2 separate regions of the Homo sapiens genome follow, and region 1 is linked to region 2. A link means that fine-mapping ties the variant in region 2 to the expression of a gene that starts in the linked region. Tissue or cell type: monocytes after interferon gamma. Region 2 holds a variant in brackets; the other region holds the start of a gene. All regions are shown on one strand. Distances are between the middles of the regions. Region 1 holds the start of PDGFB (platelet derived growth factor subunit B). Region 2 has its middle 21 kb from the start of PDGFB.

Region 1 (8,323 bases), 20 kb before region 2:
CATCGCGCCTGTGGCCATGTGTTCAAGAATGCTGTGACTAAAGTGAGGAGAAAGGCAGTTTCTGTGCCACAGCCTCCACCCCAGATACACGAGCCCGTGGAGCTGTGGGAAAGAAGGAGGAGGTGCTGGACGAAGCTGGAAATGGTAAGGGGAGGCTGGGGAAACATCCAGCTGTCAGCGGCCTCCCCGGGGCACGCTGGGATCAGCCAAGAGAATGCAACAGCCAGGGGTGGGAGCCCCCTCCGCGGTTGCACACGCCAGGTCCCTCCAGTCTTGCAGGTTCAAATGAAGGCTTATGTGAAGGGGGAATCGCTCTGGACAGCTCAGTGCCCCTCAGAGTCACATCACCACCATTTTCCACCACGCGGAGGTGGTTGAAAAAAAGGAGTCACAGATGGGTAAGGTTTGAGGGGCGTCGGGCTGACGAGGCAAAAAAAAAAGTAGGTGCTGTGGTGCTGATGGGAGGTTCTCCCTCCCTCACAGGACGCCAGGAAGGAAATGGGGCCGCTACAGAGGTGGTGAGGTGCCAGGGCCCACGGAGGGCCCACCTGTTGCGCGGGGGCGAGCACCAGGCGCTGGGTGCACGGGGGCCCGTGCGTGCCTGTGTACGTGCGTGGGTGTGCGCGCACGTGTGCTCAGGCCGCGCGTGCAGGGGCCGTGCGTGCGTTTGTGTGCGGTGCGCGCGCGTGTGTCCCGCGTGTGCACGGGCGTGGCAGAGGCGGGCGCGCGACCTGGCCGCGGTAGTGCGTGCCCGTCGCTCTGCGCGCCCGCCCGCCGGAGCGCAGCATCGCCTCCGGCCAGGAGTGTGCATGCGTGGGGTGAGTGAGCGAGTCGGGGGCCCGGGCGGGGTGGGCTGCGGAGAGCAGCCACGGGGCGCCGCCGTTCCCAGGACGCCCTGGCACCGGGCCCAGCCCCCAGGTCCCACGGCGAGGCGAGGCGGCAGCTGGGGCCGGCCGGCCACCCCCTCCCCAACAGCTGGCCGCGGCCCGGGGGGCTGCGGGAGAGGCGGAGAGGGGGCGTCGGGAGGGGCCTGAAGGCGGCCCGGCCGAGCCCCGCGTCCTCCCTCCCGGGTGCGGGCCGCGGGGGGCGGCCGCGGAAGGGCGGGGCCCCCGGGCGGGCGGCCTGCGGCCCTCGAGGAGCCCCGAGAACAAAAGGAGACGGCGACGGCTCCTCCGTGGTCAAAACAACCTGCGCTGGCGGCAGCCCAAGGCCGGGCCGCGGCCTCCGAGCCCTCCGCCTTAACCCCTTCGCCGCCGCTGCCTCCTTCCTGCGCCTGGCTGGAGGCCGCAGGGGCCGACCCTCCCCGGGAGCCGGCGAGGTGCGGGCGAGGTGCGGACTCCCGGCCGCAGCCGGGCGGAGGTGGGACGGTACCCAGTCACGCCGCGCTCCCGGCTGCCCTCTCCTCCCCTCCACCGCGCGCGTCGTCCTGCCCCGCCCCCTTTCCCACCTGGATTCCGGGTAGACTTGCCAACTCACGGCTACGTGAGGCTGGGAGGGGTGGGGACGGCTCCGACCCCAGCGCTCCCTCAGATGTTTTTATACCCCATCTCCCGTGCAGCTAGGCTTTTGCAGGCGGCGCGCTCCGCACCCTGCATGCGGGGGAGAGAGGTGCTTCCTCCTGCAGGGCGCGGGCACAGGTACGGCAAGGCCTCAGGCACACAGCGCCCCGGGGGCTGGATTCCTTCAGAGCCCCTAGTCCTCCCCCTACCCGAGTGCCCGAAACCTACCTGCGTCTCTATCTTTCTCTCCCTCTCTCTCTCCGTCTCTCTCTCCGTCTCTCTCTCTCTCTCTCTCTTTCTCTCTCTCTCTCTCTCTCTCCCTGTTACTCCCACCCCAAACCCCGCGCCCGAGACACAAGCTGCTTCCAGACCGTGCTCTGGGGCCGGGCATGCCCTGCGCGTGCCGGAGGGCGTCCACCCGGACCCCGACCGGGAGCCAGGGTGGGACCCGAGCCCCGTCAAAGGTCGGCGTGGATGGCACCGGTGCGCAAGCTTGCACCTCCTGGGCAAGCCGATGGCAGGACAGAGCCTAAGCCGAGGCTGGCGCCGAAGTGGGCTCGGGAGGACGCGCTGCCTTCTGCACCCTGGGCACCACCCCACCCCCTCTCCCCCGGCCGGGAAGGGGCTTGTTCTCGGGTTCCCAAAGGGTGGGGGACAGGGCCACACACACCCTCCCCCGACACGGAACGGCTTAGGGAGCCAGATTCGCCCGCCGGTTGGAAAGAAAGCCACCGCTGTTGCCTTCCCTTAGAGCCTGTCACCCCCGGACCTCGCTCCCAGCCCGAAGAGGTCACCCAGCGCCCGGCGTCAGGCTCGCGGGCTGCAAGGGTCCAAAGTTCACTGCAGGGAGAGGAGGGGGCGGTCAGAAGGGGGGGGCGAAGGTAATGAATGAAGAACCAGCCCCAGCCGCCGTGGCAACTCACCTCGGCGCTGACCAGACGCAGGTAGCAGCAGAGAGACAGGAAGAGCGCCCAGCAGCGATTCATGCCGACTCCGGGCCCGGCCCCGCGGGGCCCCGGACGCGTAGATCGAGCGCGCCGCCCCCGCGGCCAGGGTGGGGGGCTGGGGAGGGGGGTGGGCTCGGCTCGGGTCCGCGGCGATCAGGCGCTCAGGCCTCTGCAGCCGCGGCTCACCCGCATGGCCCCCGGGCGCCGCCGCCCCCGGCCCCGGCTCCGTCGCTGGGGGGCAGGGGAGGACCTGGGCGCAGGACCTGGGTCCGAGGCCGCTACCTGGGCGGATCCCGAGCCCGAGTGAGCATCCACGGCCGGGGGGCTGCGTCGCGAACCAGCCGAGGCGTCTAGCCGTGTGGGGGCGCCCAGGGGACTCCAACCTCCAAGAGGAAAAGGAACACGGCAGTCGATGGTTCGTCTTCACTCGCCGGCTACAGGCGTTTTCCTCTGCCCGCCGGCTTAGCTTTTTTGCAACATTTTCTGGAAAGGCCCCCAAAATCGGAAAGCGCGGAGCTGGGCACCTCAAGGCCCAAGTCTCCCCCAAAAAACTTTTTCCAAAGTTGGCTTTGCAACGGCAGCTCGAGCACCCGGGCAGGGAGAGGTGCAAACTCCCGCCCGGGCCGGGTAGGGGGGCGGGAGCGTGTGCGCCCTGGCGCGGGGCCCGGGCGGCGGGCACGGCTGCTCCGCGCGCGCGGCGTGCCCGCTGCGCGCTCGGCTGGGCCCGGCCGACAGGTGGACGCGGCGCGAGTCCGTCGGTCCGTCTGCCCGCCCGCTCGCCGCTCTGGGCGTCCTCTGCGGGCTGCGGGCTGCGAGCTGCGAGCTGCGAGCTGCGGCTGCTCCGGTTTTCTCTTTGCAGCGAGGCTGGAGGGTGGGCTTTTTTTTTTTTTTTTCCTTTTTGCGCGCGTATGTATGTGTGTGCGCGCAAAGTATCTCTATCTAGGGAATGAAAAATGGGCGCTGGCGGCCGGAGGGGAGCCCTAGGGAGGCAGCGGGGGAGGCTGCGGGTGCGCAGGGAGGCAGGCAGGCCGCTCCCGGCTGCAGGAGGAGAAGTTGCCACCCTTTCAGCTGTTCCGGCCTTTATAAAGGAGAAGGGAGAGTGCGAGAGGTGGGTGGAGACAGCCTTTCCTCTTCTGGCCCGGAGTCAGCGCCAGGAGGGGGGGGACGCGGGAGCTGGGGGAGGGCTTGGGGCCAGGGCGGGGCGCTTAGGGGGTCTCTGAGAGCCGAGCAACCCTTCAGTCCATGAATCTGGCCCTGGGGAAAAAAGAACTAGGGGTGACCCACCGTCCCGCCCCTCAGCACAGTGACCATGGACAGGTTAGGAGCCCACGTGGTCTAGGGGGATGTCTCCAGAGCCAAGGCCAGGAGTCCACGCTCCCCTCCAGGACCAGACATTTCCACCCTGGCACAGGCATGGCAGGGAGGGACTCAGGCTCTGCAGTCTGAGAGCCTGAATTCAGATCCTGCCCTGGCACTCGGGAGCTTGGGTCACCTTGGGCAAGTCACTTCCCTCTGTCCCCTCCATCTAGCCTCAACCTGGAGATGGGGCTATTGTAAGGACTCAGTGTTAGCAAGGGAAGACACCGCAAGGTGAACCCACAGAACCCGGCAGCCAGCGCCCTTCAGCTGCAAGCTGGGTCCGAGTCTCCTCCTCCTAGCTGGTTGCCTGGCACAACAGGCCCTGCCAGCGTTGGCTGAATTTGAATTTGTTGAACTGCAAAGTCACACAAACCCCCACAGCCCTGCAGCATCTTCGCAGGGCTACCAACATGATCTTCCCGTCAGTCACCCTGCTGTTTACTATCTCCCTCAGCCCCCGGGTTCGAGGCCCAGAGCCCACCCACCCACAACCAGCCTTCACACAGTTAACGCCTTCTGCCCCCAGTCAGGGAGCTGCTGTGTCCCTGCCTTCAGCAGTCACACTGTCTCAGTCACAGTCACACGTACTCACACTGGGCCCAGCACCCCCCTCGGGACACGCAGGCTCCTGCATCACCCAGCCTCCCGGCTTTGAGGCACCCTCATCTCCTCCGCTTGCACTGTCTCTGTTATCCGCCCTTCCCTTTGGGATGTCAGCCTGCTTCTCACAGAGGAGCACACTGAGAGAGTCACACCTGCTCTCTCTTCATAGACTGTCTTCTTGGACCTGGACAGGGTGGAACAGAGGAGGAAGGACATCTCAGGTGGTCTTTACAGACCACTGCAGGCACCCACCCACTGCTGCCTACCACCCAGCAGCGTGGCACAGTGGCAGAGACACAGCCTGAAGACACATCACCTTGGTCCAAATCCTGGAGTGGCCACTTGCTGGACAAGTGTCTGCAGGAAGGTTTTTTAACCTCTCAGTACCTCGGTTTCCTCCTTTATAAACTGGAGATGAATTTATAAACTGGAGCTGGGTGTGGTAACAAGCTCCTGTAGTCCCAGCTACTCAGGAGACTGTGGATCGTTTTGAGCCCAGGAGTTTGAGGCTGCAGTGAGTTGTGACTGTGCCACTGCACTCCAGCCTGGGCAACAGAGCAAGACCCTATCTCTAAAGAAATAAAAATAAATCTATAATGGGAAGGAGTGAGAGAGAACAGAGAGGCATGGCAAAATTTTAGTGGTGATGGAAATGTTTGTCATTTTTGATTGTGGTGATGGGCTTATGGGTGTATACGTACATCACAACAAAATGTGTGCAGTTTGTTGTACCTCAGTGCAGTTGTAGAGAATTTTTACCCTGCTCCTGGAGTGGTCTGGAGGCTCCCATGAGGTCCTCCATGTGGAGGCGCTCAGCAAAACACCTTAGCAGGAAGCAAGCGCCTGGAACCTTCCATGCAGCCTTCAAGTTCACTGGTGGCCCCGCACTGCTCCAGGCACTGGGGAGACAGGTGTGAACCAGCCTAATGCAGGCCCCTGCCTTTGAAGAGCCCCATTGAGAAGGACAACCAGATGTATAAACAGATAAATTAGGAGACAGGGTGACAAGGGAGATGGGGCAGCGGGACGAGGAGATAACCCCCAAACACTAGATTTGAAGTCTAACGACTCAGAGATAAAAACCCTCTTCCACCGGACAGCTGGGTCATTTGACCTTGACCTTCTGTGTCTTCTATAAATAGAATGGTAACAACTACCATGATTAGTGAGCTGACTATGTGGTAGCTAGTGTTTTTCTTACTCTACCTGTAGCCTCTCCATGCTCCTGTGAGATGTGTTATTCCTATCTTACAGATGGGGAAATGGAAGCACAGAGAGGCCAATACACTTGTTCAAGGTCACACAGCCCGTAAGTGGTAAGGCCAGGACTTGAATCTGAGCAGTCCAGCTACAGAGCCCACATGCTGAGACCACCGTGCTGTGCAATTTTCTGGCAGGTGATGCTGATGACAATGATGACACTTTTGACACAGCGCTTTGGTGAGCGCCACATGCATTAATATGTGGGAACCTGCTCTGCCAGCTAAAAAGTGATGGACCCATATGAACTCTGACTTAGGTACAAGTTGAGGGAGAGGGAAGGCTACTCAGAGCAGCATCGTAGAACGCCTACTGTTTGCAGACCCTGTGTGAAGCGCTGAGAAATGGAATGAGGAAGGAGTCCCAGCCTCGGCACTCAGGGACTTCCCATGCTCTCAGTGAGATAGACCCAAATCATTGCAGTGCAGGTGCCAGTACATGGGTTAGAAGTGGCAGAAGAGGGCCCAGCAGACACCTGGGCCTGAATGCTACGTGACACCTGCGTGACACCTGGGCCTGAATGTTGTGCTAAGGGCTCCTTTCTTGTACCTTCTCTGTGCAGAGGAACAGTCTGTAAAGAACACCTCCCCAGGCACGGTGGCTCACCCCTGTATTCCCAGCAATTTGGGAGGCTGAGGCCAGAGGATCATGTGCAGCCAGGAGTTCGAGACCAGCCTCAGCAACATAGCGAGATCCCATCTCTTAAAAAAAATTACCAAAAAAAAAAAAAAAAAAAAAAAAAAATATATATATATATATATATATATATATATATATATATATATATATATATCTGAGTGTGGCCCCAGCTACTCAGGAGGCTGAGTCAGGAGGGAGAATCCCCTGAGCCCAGGAGTTCAAGACTGCAGTGAGCCATCTCAGAGACGGGGTCTCGGTCTGTCGCCGAGGCTGGAGTGCCGTGGTGCGATCTCTTCTCACTGCAACCTCTGCCTCCCAGGTTCAAGCGATTCTCCTGCCTCAGCCTCCCGAGTAGCTGAGACCACAGGCGCCTGCCACCATGCCCAGCTAATTTTTGTATTTTTAGTAGAGACGGTTTCACCATGTTGACCAGGGTGCTCTCGATCTCCTGACCTCAAGTGATCTGCCCCACTCAGCCTCCCGAAGTGCTGGGATTACAGGCATGAACCACCACACCCAGCCTAAAAATTTTTTTTTAATAACACCTGATCGTCTGCCTCCTGCCAGGCTGGGTGTAGCAGGCACCTCCTCCAGAAGGCCCACCAGGCTTGGCACTTGTTCCAGGCTCCACAGCATGCACACCTGGCATCGTCATGGCCTGATCATCAATCTAGCACTAGACTGAGTCCAGAGTGTTCAAGGGCCTCCTGCCAGCTCCTAGCATACAGTGGCTGCTCAGGAAGTGCCGCTCGCTGAAGGAATGAATAAATGATTAAAATCCTGCCAATTTCTCTTTCTGAGTCCTGACCAGTTATTGCAGAGATGCCAGGCCCTTCCTAAAGGGTGGAAAGAGTTGGGGAGGGGCTTGTAGCATGAGCCTCTAAGCTTGGAAGCACAGGGCCCCTGAAGGGCACCCCTTCTGGAGGTATCAGAACTGGGAAGGGTCTGAAGCCACACCACCCTGAATGCACGTGGTCTCATCTGACCTCGGAACTTCATCAGGGCTGGGTCTGAGGAGCACTTGAATGAGAGAACTGGGAAGGCCCCCGCCCATCTTCGCGTTCAGGCCACTGGGAAATAAGGTTCTCCAGCAGAGCTAGGGATGGGGGCGCCCACACCCCCGTAACTCTCCACCCTCCACTCCAGGACAGATCTGAGCCAAAGGGAAAAAGAGTGGCCACAGCCGTGGGGGATGGGGGTGCTGCCCAAGGTTGGGGGCTTTTTAGACTGTGTGCTCAGAGCTATCCAAGCCCTCATCCATGAAGAGCATCTTACACCCTGGGCGTGGGGGTCCAGGACACTGGCTGGGGTGAAGAAATACCAAGGAAGGAGTTGGGTTCCATCCCGGGGGCAAACTCACGCCCTCAAGTCCAGAAAGGTGAGAGCGATGATCACTGGGAGCCTCCCCGCCACTGAGAGGGGCCAGCAACACCTGGGCCAGGCAGCTCTGCTTCTCCATACTTGATGGAGAGGAAGTGAGGCTCTAAGCTGGAGACCGTCCAAGACCATGCCACAAATGGTCTGAAACTCCAAGCCCTACCCCACTCCGCGTGGCCCTCATCAGCTCCCCCATGCCCCTTGCTGCCCCATCCCCTGCCTCCCTGTCTACAGGGCCTTTGGCTGTCCACAAAGCACTTCCTTCCCCTCTGCCTGCCTCACCCTCACAGTCGCCCAGGGAGAAGGCATTGCCATCGTATATGCCCATTGTACAGATGAGGAAAGTGAGGCTGAGAGAGGGCAAGGGACTAGGCTTCCCGTCAAAGACCACCTGGGTTCAAAGCCCTGCCCTACCATCTACTAACTCTGTGACCTTAAGCAAATTCCTTAACCTTCCTGAGCCTCACGTTCCTCCTCTGTAAGTCGTAGGGACAATAGTCCCTACCTCACTGGGTTAAATGAGTTAATTCACCTGAAGTGATAAAGCCTGGAGTGAGCACCCCACAGATGTTGGTCATCACAGTGATGGTTATTACTGCAGGCTCTGCGCGCGCGCGCACACACACACACACACACACA
Region 2 (8,323 bases):
TCTGCTCTCTTTTATAAATGAGGAAACAGAGATATCAAGGGGCTGAGCAGCTTGCCCATGGACACACAGTGACAGGATAAAAATTCAGCTTCGTCAATCTCTGGCAGGCTGCATTTTCCAGCAGGGACCACAACAATGCCTGATATCCCACATGCTCCTCTTGCAATGCCATATTGATGTTCCTCCTGTGGAGAGGTGAGGTCTGCATTCCCTTTCCTTGAATCCAGATAAACTGGAATCCACAGAACCAAAGCTCTGTGGCCTCTGAGGCTGGGTCATCAAAAGCAATATTGTTTCTGCTTGGTTTTCCTGGGACGCTTGCCTCAGGAGTCCTGAGCTGCCATGCTGTGAGGAAGCTCAATCAGCCCACACGGAGAGACCCAACAGAGGGACCCAGAGAGTACAAGGGGAGGAGAGAGAGGCCCGGCCAGTGCCCACTGCACCTGCTCTAGCTACGAAGTGCAACTGCAATTGCAACTGCATGGAGACCCCAAGCAAGCCCACCCAGCTAAGCCCTTCCCAAATTCCTGACCCACAGAAACTATGAGAAATGATCCAGTGATTCTTGTTGTTTTAAGCTACTACATTTGGGGTTGGTTTGTTATGCAGCAGTAGCTAGTTAGATCATGACCCATTGCAAATCCTGTTGGACTGAAGTTCAGAATAACCTAGAAGCCAACCCATCTCACATCTCTACCCACTACCCAAATCCAAGCCACTGTCACCTCCTGCCTGGATGGCTGTGGTAGCCTCCTGACTTCTGCCCCGACCCTGCAGTCTGTCCCCTGCACAGCAGCCCAAGTGGGGCTACAGGGCAGAGATGACCCTGCTCAGAGCCCTCCAGTGGCTCCCATGGCACTCAAGTCCTGACAGTGACCCACAGGCCCAACAAGACCTGCCCCAGGACCTATCTGACCTCAGTTTGGCCCACCCGCCCCACCTCTCTCTGCTGCAGCCCCTCGGGCCTCTTGGCTGTGTCCCCAAACTCACCAAGCACTTCCCTTCCTCAGAGCCATTGACAGCGCCGTTCCCTCTACCTAGTTCTTTTCCCCCAGGTGTCTGGCTGGCTCCATCCCTCAGCCCTTCAGCTCTCAGCTAAAACATCACCTCCCTGGGGAGGCCTCCCCACCCCCACTTCCCCTCCACCAAAGTCCCTAGTCTCCTCTGCTTGATTTCTCTCTGTTGAATGCCCCGCCTCCTCATGGTGGTGATAAGTTAGATCTCAATTGTCTGTTGTCTACCTCTTCCCATCATTATATGAGCCCTTGCCAACAGGGACTTTGTTTTTACTGCTTTATCCTCAGTGCATAGAGCAGGCCCTGCACAAAATAGACCTTCAAATGTCTGTTGAATGAATGAAGGACACCAGAACCTTTCCGCCCAGTTGAAACCCTTGCTTAGTCTGCTTTCTGTTGCTTATAACAGAATACCTGAAACTGGATACTTTGTTTATTTATTTATTTTTTGGAAACAGAGTCTCGCTCTGTTGCCAGGCCGGAATGCAGTGTTGCGACCTCAGCTCACTGCAACGTCTGCCTCCCACATTCAAGCAGTTCTCCTGCCTCAGCCTCCTGAGTAGCTGGGACTACAGGCGCCCGCCACCACACCCAGCTAATTTTTGTATTTTTAGTAGAGACAGGTTTCAGCATGTTGGCCAGGACGGTCTCAATCTCTTGACCTTGTAATCTGCCCGCCTTGGCCTCCCAAAGTGTTGGGATTACCGGCGTGAGCCACCGCGCCCGGCCTTGAAACTGGATGCTTTATAAAGAAAAGGAATTTATTTCCTACAGGTGTGAAGCCTGAGAGGGCCAAGGTTGAGGGGCCACAGCTGGTGAGGGACTTCTTGCTGGTGGGGACTCTCTGCAGGTTCCCAAGATGGCGCAGGGCATCCCATGGTGAGGGAGCTGGGCGGGCTAACATGCTCAGGCCTCTCTTCCTTCCCCTCCCATGATAACCCATTATCCCATTAGTCCACAAATGGATTAATCTATTCTTGAGAACGGAGCCCTCCTGACCCCATCACCTCTTAAAGGGCCCACCTCTCAACATTGCCACACTGGGGATTAAGTTTCCTTAAAACGTGAGTTTTGGACGGAACAAATATTCAAACCATAGCACCCAGTGGGTGAGAGAGTAAGAGAAGGGGCGTCGAGCCTCTCAAGATGGGTTGCTCTCCTGCCTATTTAAGATACACCCCATACTTCAGATGTTGAAACTGATGCTTAGAGAAGGTGAATCATTTGTCAAGGCCTAACCAGTCGCTCACATAGTCAACAAATATTGATTGAGTTAAAGCTATATATAGCATCCAAATCTCCTGGGATCTTTGAACCCACACCTCCTGGGATCAAATCCCAGGGCTGCCACTTGCGAGCCAAAGGGGCAACTTACTTAATCTCTCTGTGCCTCAGTTTCCTCACATCTACCATGGGGCTACCCCCCACCCCAGAGGCAGGGGCATATTTGCCCTTTGGCTCCTGACTCCTAAGCTCTGGCATGCCTCATGTGCATGGCCCCTTCCAAGGCACCCTGCCTCTCTCATACCCACAATCATGTGTTTTCCTGGAAGAAGATCTCGAGACTGACTCAGCTTCAGGCCCCTAGTCCCCTACCCAGAGGGTTGTTTTGAGAATTAAATGAGTTACTGCCCATGAGGCGTGCCTGGCACATAGCAAGTGCTCAGTGCTGTTGCTGAGGGCCCACTGTGTGCTGGGCACGGTGCTTGGAGCCGGGAGTCAGTGGCAAAGACAGACCAAGCCTGCCATCATGGAGCCCATGTCCCAAGAGGGGAACAGACAGTGAACAAATGAGCAAATTGGAGCCTGCTCTGGGGAGGCAAGTGGCTGAAAGGAGAGAGCATTTTCAGGCAGGAGGAACAGCAGGTGCAAAGGCCCTGTGGTGGGGACGAGCTTGTCGCATTGGGGAAGTGAGTGAGGAGGCGCCGCAGGAGCTGTGGTCAGAGAAGCCGGGTGCTGGGTCTGCTTCCCTCTCCCCTCCCCGCCTCTGAGGGACCAGCTGGGGTACTGATCTACCATCTCCCTGTCCCTGCCTTGTGACCTCAGACCCTGTGCCCAGCCCCCACTTCCCCTTCCAGCTGTGACCCAGAAGTGGAGGGCACGTCCTTCCCTAGACTACATCTCCGTCCCCAGGGTGGGCCTGAAACTTCCAGAGCCTCAGTGGACTCAGCAGCTGTCCCCACTCCCTGACCCACCCACCTGCCCCCAGCAGCGTCAGACCCTCAAAAACTCCTCTCCTTTGCTTTCCCCAACCCTCCCAGAAACCATGGAGATTCCCCAGATGCATCAGACATTTCCCCAGCCCGGAACGCCCTGTCTGCCCTCCTCCATCTGACCAAATCTCAACGTCACCTCCTTCTGGAAGTCCCTGGGTTATGAGCAGAAAATGAGTCTTGCTCGTCTCTGTACCCCAGGGCCTGGTACAGGGCTTGGCACAAGGATAGACTGGTGATAAATGGAAAGCTATTCAGGTCCAATTGACACATTCTCCACTGGCCTGCTTGCCTGGCCCGTGCTGGGCATAGAAGCCAGGACTCTGACAGATGGCTCCACTCACGTTCATGGGCAAAGAACCCATTCCCAAGTCCAGGGTCCTGGAGTGTGCCTGGGCTCTGCACTAATCTGCGACGTGACCGTGGAAAGCCACCGGTCTCTGCTGGGCTTCTCCTTATCGCCAGAGCAGCAGCTGGAAGAGTCTATGCGTGAGTCACGGTGTGGGCCTGATCCAGACAGCCTGGGTTTGAATCCTGCCTGCCACTTGCTGCTGTGTGACCTTGGGTGAGTTTCTTAACTTCTCTGAGCCTCTGTTTCCCCATCAGTAAATGCTGAAGAGAATCAGTGCCTGTCTCACAGAATCGTTCTGAAGGTTCCTGGCGCTGGTTCTGTGGAAAGCTGGGCCTGTAGAAAGCACAGAAAGTGCATGCACCATGATTAGGCTTTGAGCTGCGTCTACAGGGACGTGATGTGCTTGTCGCACACATCTACTACATGTGTCAGAGTGGGAGCCTGGGAGTGCTCAGGACTGAGTCCTTTCTGAGGTTCCTCATGGCACCAAGGACAAGGGTAGCCAGAAACTCCCCGGGCCCCATCACAGCTCCCTGCTCGCGCGGGCTGGGGATGTGTGTGCACACCACACGGACGGGCGTCCGGTCCATCACAGGCACTCTCTTCCTGGACACACCACCTGCTCCGAGGCAGCCTCCATCCTCCCCCACCACTAGACACTCCGAGCAGTGGAATACCATTGAGGAGGTCCAGGGAAACAAGGTGATCCCATCATGGTGAACTGAGTTTCCATAGACCCACACACACATACCCTTACACACATACATACTCCCCTAGGGAAGGGTGGCTGGAAATAAGGTAACAGGACACATATGAAGGTTCTGGGAGGCTGGGCACAGTGGCTCACACCTGTAATCCCAGCACTTTGGGAGGCCGAGGCGGGTGGATCATGAGGTCAAGAGATCAAGACCATCCTGGCCAACATCATGAAACCCCATCTCTAATAAAATACAAAAATTAGCAGGGCGTGATGGCACGCGCCTGTAGTCCCAGCTACTCGGGAGGCTGAGGCAGGAGAATCGCTTGAACCCGGGAGGCAGAGGTTGCAATGAGCCGAGATTGTGCCACTGCACTCCAGCCTGGAGTAACAAGAGTGAAACTCCGTCTCAA[GA/G]AAAAAAAAAAAAAAAGTTTCTGGGGACCACAGCCGGTAAGGGGCTCACTCTCAGACTCCTGGGTTCCTGCCCCTTAGGGCCTGGGGGAGAAGGCCTCGTTTAAACAGAGAGTTTATTCATCTTAGTGATCTCTGTGTCCAAAGCCCATTGCACAGGGGAAGCTGAGGCCCAGGAAGCCTGAGTGACTCGTCTAAGATCACACAGCAGTATGGGAAGAGCCAGCCCTAGAACCCAGGACTCTGACTTCCTGGCCATGCCCCTCCCACACAGAGTGATGCGTGTCTAGAGATCACCCCAGTTCTACTTTCCAAAATGAGTCAGGAACATCTGTACCTCTGGGACTAAAAATACTCCCAGGGACACCCCAGTAAGAACGCTGACATCTTTCCGGGTGTCTGAAAACAGAACTGGCCTTCCTAAGAACTAACAACGATACTGTTTTCAGCCACGTTCCCTTCCTGTTCTTGCTACACGCTCTGTCAAATAGGTGGCCAGAGGCCCGGGTGCAGATGCAGTGGCTCACGTCAGTAATCCCAGCACTCTGGGAGGCTGGTGGGCGGATCACTTGAGGCCAGGAGTTTAAAGACCAGCTTGGGCAACATGGTGAAACCCTGTCTCTACTAAAAATACAAAAAATTAGCCGGGTGTGGTGGCACAAACCTGTAGTTCCAGCTACTCAGGAGGCTGAGGTGGGAGGATCACCTGAGCCGGGAAGTCAAGAGTGCAGTGAGCCATGATGGCATGCCACTGCACACCAGTCTGGGCAACAGGAATGAGACCCTTTCTCCAAAAGAAAAAAGAAAAGTAGGTGACCAGGCCCCATCTGACAGGATGTGCCACTGAGGCCTAAAGGGATCTGCCCAGGATCACACAGGCAGCCCCTGACACCTGGCTGCCACCTCCAAGCCTAGAACCTTCCCTGATGCCAACTCCCTCTCAGAGACTCGAGGGCAGAGCACAGACAGCATCCACCCCATCCCCACCCCGAATTCCTTTGATTTTTTTTTTTCATTTTTAATGTCTTGGCCGGGCACAGTGGCTCATGCCTGTAATCCCAGCACTTTGGGAGGCCGAGGTGGGCGGATCACAAGGTCAGGAGTTCGAGACCAGTCTGGCCAATATGGTGAAACCCTGTCTCTACTAAAAATGCAAAAAAAAAATAGTCAGGAGTGGTGGCGGACGCCTGTAGTCCCAGCTACTCGGGAGGCTGAGGCAGGAGAATCACTTGAACCTATGAGGCGGAGGTTGCAGTGAGCCAAGATCATGCCACTGCACTCCAGCCTGGGCGACAGAGCAAGACTCCGTCAAAAAAAAATCATTTTTAATATCTTTACCATAAAAGCAACAATACATGTTCATTTATGAAAATCTAAAAATTGCAGAAAAGTCAAAATAAGGAAGAAAAATCACCACCCACAGCCCCACCACCCAGAGACAATCATTGTTAAGGTTTGATGTATTTCCTTCCATAGTTTTTTGTTTGAGGACTTTAAAAAAAAAATGGGGCTGAGGTCATACTGTATATTAAAAGAAAAAAAAAAGGTGGTATCCTGCCTTTTTGACCTGCCATTATATCATGGCCACTTTTCTAGTTCTTTCACTCTCTGTAATCTCGTTTCTTTTTCCTCTTCTCTGAACCTCATTTTTATTGGCTGCCTAATATTTTGTCAAACCATATTCCATGGTTTATTTTGCCATTCCCTCATTGTTGGAAATCTCAGTTATTTCCAGTTTTTCGAAGCTATAAATAATATATTTCGATTAATATCTTTCTACAGATAGCTTTCCTTTTTCCATATTTAGGGGTTGCTCCTTGGCTGGCATGGAATTCCTGGGTCAGCAAGCCATGTGTGATATGCTTCTGACTCAACCCAGTTGCTTTTCTAAGGACCTGAGCCATGCCTGGTCTACAGAGGAGCAGAGAAGCCCCAGGAGGTGACATACACTGCTCATGGCCACTCAGCCGGTTAGCCATGCCCACGCTCCTTCCTCTGTCTCTCGCCTATCTCTGTCATCATGCTTCCATCTAATCATTTTCATTCATTCATTCGATTCAACAGAGAAGGTGAACCCACTGTGTGCCAGGCGCAGGTCCGGGCTCCAGAGACCCGGCAATGGACAGTCAAAGCCTGTGCCCTCCAGGCGTTTCTACCACAAGGCATGATGGGAAGAAGGGTATATCCTCACCCACCTCCGCATTTGGTTATATGCAATGTGAGGTGTTCGTTTGCATGGCTTCTCATTTGCATCCCACCTGGGGACAGGTGGGCCGGCAGAGGGTGACATCTATCAGCTCTAAGGGCAGGGTCCTGGTTTTCCTCAGCCCCAAACTGTTTTCTAACATTTGGCCTTCCCTTAAAACTTGGGAGATTTCACAAGAGTCTGGATTTCTGACTTCTTCTGAACACTCTGTAGGCCTGGCCACACTGGGCCCAGGTCCCAGAGGGCCCCCAGGGATTGGAGCTCAGTCGTGGCACCCCCTCTGCCCAGGCCCGACCTGGCTACCTTGACACACACCACACTGAGCTTCTTGGCCGTCCTTTCTGCACACATTCATTGGGTCCTGGCCATTCCTGACTCGGCTGGAGGGATGTTAATGATTGTAATCCAGAGACAAGTCACAAGAAGATGAAGTCACTTGGCTGAGGTGACAGAGCTACAAGGGACAGGGGCAGGATTTGAACCAGAGCGACTCGGATCCTGAGTCCAGGCTTTTGGCCACGCCTGCCTGACAGTCCAGTGGGAAAACTGTCAGGTCCTGGGAGACCCTGGCAGGGGGACAGACTGCCCCACCGCAGCCAGGGGCAGCTCAGAGGGTCCCCAGGGCAGCAGAGGTCTAAGACCACTGTGGACATGGGCCTGAGAGCCAGAGCTCAAAAGTCAGGTTGGAGGTTTCCTATTTGAGGAGAGCCTCCCTCTGCCCAGAACACCCTCTCCTCCTGCCTTTACCTGCTTCATGCTTACTCTTGCTCAGCTGAGACGCCACCTCCTCCAGGGAGCCCTCCCTGACCCCAGGGAGGGTTTACAGCTAGCTTCAGAGCTCCGGTCCAGCCCAGAGGGAGGTGTGGCCCTGACTGGATGGGAGAGACTAGAGCACCAGCACCAGTGACTTACACATTCCCAAGTTTCCACTGCCTCCCACGGGAGACCCCCCGCTCGCACTCCAAACCCCAGCCACCTCCCACCCCCTCAGCTCCATGTGGATTAAGAGAGAAAGGAAGAAACAGCAGTGACTGCAGGACAGTAGGACGGCTGCTGGCCTAGGGTGGCCCAGAAAACCCCAGCTTCACCCTACACTGGCTGCATGACCTGAGGCATTTCCTAACCACCCTGCGCCTTGGCTTCCTCACCTCTAAAACAGACTGTAGTGGAGTTCCTCCCTCCCGGTCACTGTGAGCCTTCACGGGAAGAGCCCCTGGTGGACACCCCAGTAAGTGGTCATCTTATTATTAATGAACAGGGGAGCACCCACCCCCGGGGTCATGGGCTCACAGAATGCGGGGAGCCTAGAGCCCCCAGCCCCACCGTCTCATTTTATAGCTGAGGAGACTAAGCCCAGGGAGGGAGGAAGCCATGGCTTCAGCAAGAGGCCCTGACCCTAACTCCAGAGGGAGCCCCTGACCCTAACTC

Evidence for each region. PIP is the estimated chance that this variant, and not a neighbour inherited with it, causes the effect.
Region 1: PDGFB starts here. The variant in region 2 is the best candidate, but not a certain one, in a credible set for the expression of PDGFB in monocytes after interferon gamma (Fairfax 2014, PIP 0.53).

Annotation. Positions count from the first base shown.
Region 1 is chr22:39,241,479-39,249,801 of GRCh38, forward strand. PDGFB (platelet derived growth factor subunit B) reads right to left here and starts at 3,504. Exons shown (of 7, transcript NM_002608.4): 1 at 2,423-3,504. The coding sequence starts at 2,485. RefSeq lists a silencer at 1,559-1,638.
Region 2 is chr22:39,261,575-39,269,897 of GRCh38, forward strand. No RefSeq gene overlaps it. Among named protein-coding and RNA genes, the nearest start is that of PDGFB, 21 kb to the left of the region's middle. RefSeq lists enhancers at 846-1,345, 4,967-5,046, 5,227-5,496, 7,265-7,797. The variant GA/G (reference allele first, on the strand shown) is at 4,692.